Linked DNA regions of Homo sapiens: region 2 is linked to region 1. The links come from fine-mapping of genetic effects on gene expression. A gene starts in region 1. The other region holds a variant in brackets. All regions are shown on one strand. Distances are between the middles of the regions.

Evidence for each region.
Region 2: its variant is fine-mapped to the expression of MEGF8 in whole blood (TOPMed, PIP above 0.99).

The regions. Positions count from the first base shown.
Region 1 is chr19:42,324,013-42,326,910 of GRCh38, forward strand. It overlaps MEGF8 (multiple EGF like domains 8), which reads left to right and starts at 1,623. Exons shown (of 42, transcript NM_001271938.2): 1 at 1,623-2,418. The coding sequence starts at 2,232. It overlaps TMEM145 (transmembrane protein 145), which reads left to right. Exons shown (of 15, transcript NM_173633.3): 15 at 725-1,052. The coding sequence ends at 805. RefSeq lists silencers at 1,549-1,738, 1,779-1,918, 2,139-2,208, 2,219-2,288.
Region 2 is chr19:42,286,554-42,289,451 of GRCh38, forward strand. It overlaps CIC (capicua transcriptional repressor), which reads left to right. Exons shown (of 21, transcript NM_001386298.1): 3 at 218-367; 4 at 453-687; 5 at 767-896; 6 at 992-1,174; 7 at 1,257-1,422; 8 at 2,335-2,537; 9 at 2,628-2,853. Among named protein-coding and RNA genes, the nearest start is that of PRR19, 14 kb to the right of the region's middle. The variant T/C (reference allele first, on the strand shown) is at 1,289.

The DNA.
Region 1 (2,898 bases):
CCTGCGCCGTGCCCCCACCGCCCGCCTTCCGCGGCTCTCCCCCAGCTCCCCGGCCGCCGCCGGAGTTCGCCCCGCGCGCCCCGACGCCGCCCTTTGAGTACCTGGCCCCGCTGCCCAGGCGCCCCGCCACCCAGTCCTTCCCTGACTGACAACGTGCGTCCACACCTGGGGTGGAAGGGTTCTCCGGGGGAGGGGGACGGGCCTTCGGGGCCGCATCTGCCCCCCGAGGGTCCCGGACGGCCTCTGACCCTGACCCCCCTCCCAGGCCGGGAAGCAGGTGGAGGAGACAGCGGTGGCGGCGGCGGTGGCCCCGAGGGGCCGCGTGGTGACCATGGCCGAGCCGGGCGCAGCCTCCCCCCCACTTCCCGCTCGGTTCCCCAAGGCGGCCGACTCGGGCTGGGACGGCCCGACGCCGCCCTACCAGCCGCTCGTGCCCCAGACGGCAGCGCCGCACACCGGCTTCACCGAATACTTCAGCATGCACACGGCCGGGGGCACTGCACCCCCGGTCTGAGCACCCCTGCCCGCCCCTGCCCCATGGGCCATGACCGGGCCCCGGCCGGGCTCCGGACCCCTGCTTTATCCCGGCCCGAGAGCTCGCCCATCCCCGGCCTTCCCGACCCTTCCCACCCCGCGCGCCCAGGTTGGGTACGCTGCGTCCCGCCCCCCTCCCCTCTGTGCCAAACGGTCCCGCGGGAGCCGCTCTCCCCGTCCCCTCCCTCAGCCCCTGCCCCGAGCGGCGCCGGATTCTGGGCTCCCGCTGTTCCGTGACCTCCGGCCCCCTGGCCCCCTTCGAGACCTCTGACCCCGCTGGACTCCGGAACACCCGTGGTGACCGCCGGGACCCTGCCTGTGACTCTCCAGGACTCTGCGACCCCGGGATGGATATTGCGATGCTGGTCTCGACCCTGAAACCCTCCCTCGGATCTGTGACCTCGGACCCGTACTCCATCTGCCGCATCTCCATTCCGGGGGCCTTCCCTCGGGTCCCTGGCAGAAAGACATTTTACCCCTTCTTGCCAAAATAAAAAAGGATTCGTTTTTATCTATAACATGGCTTCTTTTGCATCTTGATGGTGTTCAGCGGCGGGGCTGAGCCAGAACTATGTCAGGCTCGGGACCTCAGTGTGTCCATCTGTGAAATGGGAATTTGGAACCGGAGGCAGGGGCCTGTATAACCTGATCTTTATGTTGCCCCAGAATGTGGGAACATTGAAGATGATCAAACATCTAGCAGGGTCTTGCACCGCTCCTTTATTTTTGCCTTCCTTTCCTCACTCAGAGGTAGAGGCGCCCTCCAGTGGCCCATGCTTTGCTGAACCACAGGCACCCAGAGTTTGGGTTACGATCTTAGCACTGCGCATATGTGTATTTCTCTCCCTCCAGGAGGACGCTGCTGCGCATGCGGTTGGGAACAAATGGGCGGGGATTTCCCCGGAAGTCTCCCTTTATGGAGGGTTGGGGTTGGGCGCTCCGCAGTCCTCCCAGGGCCGCTCTGACCGGCCGCTCTGTAACTTCTCGCCTCCTCTTCGCCGTCCCTCCCACAGCGGCTGCTCGGCTCCCGCCCCCTCGCCCTCCCACAGCGGGTCTTCCCGCGGCCGCTCTGGCCCAAGCGTCCCCTCGTCTCTCTGATCTGGCCCATCCGGCTTCGGAGGGAGGCGAGGGTGGGTGAGCAAAGGGATTGGGTCTGTGGGGTCCAGGCCCGAACCCCTGAAGACGGGCTCCGCCCCCGGCACCCGCTCGCGCCCCGCCCCCGGCTGGAGGAGTCTCTCCTGGACCATCCGAACCTAGCCTGTCCCGGCCCGCAGCCTCTATGGAGGCTCCTGCCGGGCCGTAGAGCCCTTCGCCCCCTGGGGACCCACCCGTCTATAAGGTCCGTTTGGCCTGCAGCAGCCTGAGTCCGTAATGCTGGGCACTGTTCATGGGATCGGCCCCCTATGGAGCCCTGTGTCTATAGGGGACTCCTACGGTCCCTAGGGTTCGGCCCCGTCCATAATGACTCCATATACAGGGCCTTCCATCGCTCTATAGGGCTCAGCCCTCGGCTTCCAGAGCCTGTCAGCAGTGGCCGTACCCTTCGCCGGGACTGCCGGGTCTCCGGGACCTCTTCGATCTACAAGGTCATGTTATGCCTATAGAGGTCGCATTTGCAGGGCCTCACCCCGGGTAGAGGGTCCTCTCCAGGTTTTTACGGCCTGTCCCCGCTCTAAGGGTCAGTGCAGGAGGCGGCGATGGCCCTGGGCAAGGTTCTGGCCATGGCACTGGTTTTGGCCTTGGCCGTGCTGGGGTCGCTGTCCCCTGGGGCCCGGGCGGGGGACTGCAAGGGGCAGCGGCAGGTGCTGCGGGAGGCGCCAGGCTTCGTGACGGATGGTGCGGGCAACTACAGCGTCAATGGCAACTGCGAGTGGCTCATCGAGGGTGAGTGGGGCCGCGTGGGTCACTCACTAATTCGCTGGTAGTTCATTCATGTGTGCATTCATCCACTCACCACATTCCCAGAGCTCGGTTCTGGTCCAGGCCTTTTGCTCTAAAATGCCTGACACCCAGGGTTGCAGCCAACCTGGGCCCTGCCCTGGAAGGCCTCCAAGTCTGGTGGGGGAGATGCACCTACACCCAGATTTACAATTACAAGACAGGAGCATCAGTGCCGGGCCTTCTGAGTAACTGTTAAGAACTCAGGGTCTGGGTCCAATCATTTGGCTTTGAATTTGGTTCTACTACTACTACTTTTTTTTTTTTTTTTTTTTGAGATGGGGGCCTCACTCTGTCACCCAGGCTGGAGTGCAATGGTACCAACACAATTTACTTACTGCAGCCTCGACCTCCTGGGCTCAAGTGATCCTCCCACCTCAGCCTCCCAAGTAACTGAGTGTGTAGAGACAGAGTCTCACCATGTCG
Region 2 (2,898 bases), 37 kb before region 1:
CTTCCCTGCTTCTGTTTTCTTTTTTATAAATCTAGAAACCTTTCAGGGAGGAGTTTTTCCTGAGTGACGTTGCATGGACGAGTCCAAGAGGCTCTGGTGTTGGGGGTGGGGGGTAGACAAAAGGGGTGGGGCTACCTCATCTAGGGTGGGGAAGAGCTTGAGTTGGGGTTGGGGCCAGGCTCTCCTGCTGCACAGCTCACCTGGCTCCTTTCCACAGTGTGGACGAATGTGGAACCTCGCTCTGTGGCTGTGTTCCCTTGGCACTCCTTAGTCCCCTTCCTGGCACCCAGCCAGCCTGACCCCTCCGTGCAGCCGAGCGAGGCCCAGCAACCTGCCAGCCACCCAGTGGCCTCCAACCAGAGCAAAGGTGAGGGCTGGTGGGGACTGGGGGGAGGCAAGGGTGTGGGGTCCAGGTGGCCTAGGAGCCCTCTGATCTACCTCTGTGTCCCCAGAACCTGCTGAGTCGGCAGCTGTTGCTCATGAACGGCCACCAGGTGGGACAGGGAGTGCTGACCCTGAGCGGCCCCCTGGAGCCACATGCCCTGAGAGCCCAGGACCCGGACCCCCACACCCTTTGGGGGTGGTGGAATCTGGTAAGGGTCCGCCTCCCACCACGGAGGAGGAGGCCTCCGGCCCCCCAGGAGAGCCCCGGCTGGACAGTGAGACAGAGAGTGACCATGATGATGCGTGAGTTCCCTGAGGCCTGGGACTTGGGGGTGGGATGGCCAGAGACATGGCCCTCACTGTCCCTGCTGCCCCGCCGCAGCTTCCTCTCCATCATGTCTCCTGAGATCCAGTTGCCTCTACCGCCCGGAAAACGTCGGACCCAGTCCCTCAGTGCCCTACCCAAGGAACGGGACTCATCTTCTGAGAAGGATGGACGCAGCCCCAACAAGGTACTTTATCCCTGCCTGTCCTGTGCTCACCCCGTGGCCACCCACACCTGTCTGCCAGGTCCTAACTGTCCCGCTCTGGGCTGTGTTTAATGCAGCGGGAGAAGGACCACATCCGGCGGCCCATGAATGCCTTCATGATCTTCAGCAAGCGGCACCGGGCCCTGGTCCACCAGCGTCATCCCAACCAGGACAACCGGACCGTCAGCAAGATCCTGGGCGAGTGGTGGTATGCCCTGGGGCCCAAGGAGAAGCAGAAGTACCACGACCTGGCCTTCCAGGTAACGCTGTTGCCTCTTGGCTCCTCCCAGCTTCTTCTGGTGGGGTGGGTGAGTGAAGGGTTGCCCTGCCCTCTCCTGCCAGGTGAAGGAGGCCCACTTCAAGGCCCACCCAGA[T/C]TGGAAGTGGTGCAACAAGGACCGAAAGAAGTCCAGCTCAGAGGCCAAGCCCACGAGCCTGGGGCTGGCAGGAGGGCACAAGGAGACGCGGGAGCGGAGCATGTCGGAGACGGGCACTGCTGCTGCCCCTGGGGGTTAGTCAGCCCCTTGGCTCTCCCACCCTGCCACCTCCCTCCCCGAGAGCCACCAGCTACCCCCTTGCTTGCTCCTCCCCTGCCCCAGCAGCTCCTCTCTGCTCTATCGCTTTAATTTGGCGACCCTTATCCGTAAAGGAACCGGCAGTTGATTCATGTGACGGAGCCAGGGAGATCCACACAGATACTAAGATTCCCAAACAGCAATCTCGTTATCAACTGTTGTTTAACGAGTGTTTACTATGTGCCTGGCACTACAGGGAATATAAGCTGTAGTCTGCAAAACCCCATTCTATTTCTAGAAGAAGAAACTGAGGTTCAGAGAGGCAAAATCACTTGCTTAAAGTCATAAACAAGCAAATGACAGAGCCAGAATGTAAACCCCAGTTCGGCGGGCCCCCAGCACCATAGTTGGGGCCACTGCAGCTCGCAAACACCCCTGATGGGCTGCTTCCACTTATTGAGGTTGTCTGGTGTGCCTGGCGGTGTTCTGGGGCACATTTTTGGAGTGAGCCTATGGGTATGGCAGTTCTGTGAGGTTAGATGGATAGTTGCTATGGATATGCACTTCTATGAGAGTGGGGACACTAGTTACTTCCTCTTTGAGATGAGGGAACCGAGGCTCAGGCCAGCGGTTGGCTAGCCAGCACCACATGAACCTCTCTCCAGGCCTCCTTACTTTCAGGAGGGCTGCCCCCCAGGGAATGGGCCTGCTGCAACCCCAGAGGGCAGGAATCAGCAGGAATGAGATGCTGGACTGGTGGTGGGTGGTGGTTTTTTTTTTTCACCAAGTGGCCCAGAAATTCCAGCCTGCTTCTGCCTAGTACCTAGAAATATCTATGGGTTGTTGGGCCAGTCTAGGTGCTGGTGACAGGCTTACTGACTGTCATAGCGCCACTCTCTACTTTACAGTGTCCTCTGAGCTCCTGTCCGTTGCAGCCCAGACACTCCTGAGCTCAGACACCAAGGCTCCGGGGAGCAGCTCCTGTGGGGCAGAACGGCTACACACAGTTGGGGGACCTGGCTCAGCCCGGCCCCGAGCTTTCTCCCACAGCGGGGTACACAGCCTGGACGGCGGAGAAGTAGACAGTCAGGCGCTACAGGAACTGACGCAGGTCTAGGGTGCAGGCCCCCTAGTGGGGGTGGGCAGGGAACCTGTCCAGGGCAGCAGCCCCGCTGAACCCTCTCTGCCACCTATCCTGCAGATGGTGTCTGGCCCTGCATCGTACTCTGGCCCAAAGCCTTCTACCCAGTATGGAGCTCCAGGACCCTTTGCAGCCCCTGGTGAGGGAGGTGCCTTGGCGGCCACTGGGCGGCCCCCGCTGCTGCCCACCCGAGCTTCTCGTTCTCAGCGTGCGGCCAGTGAGGACATGACGAGTGATGAGGAGCGCATGGTCATCTGTGAGGAGGAAGGGGATGATGATGTCATTGGTGAGCATTGCAGGGCCCAGAATCTTGCCCAGGACCCAGCAGGCC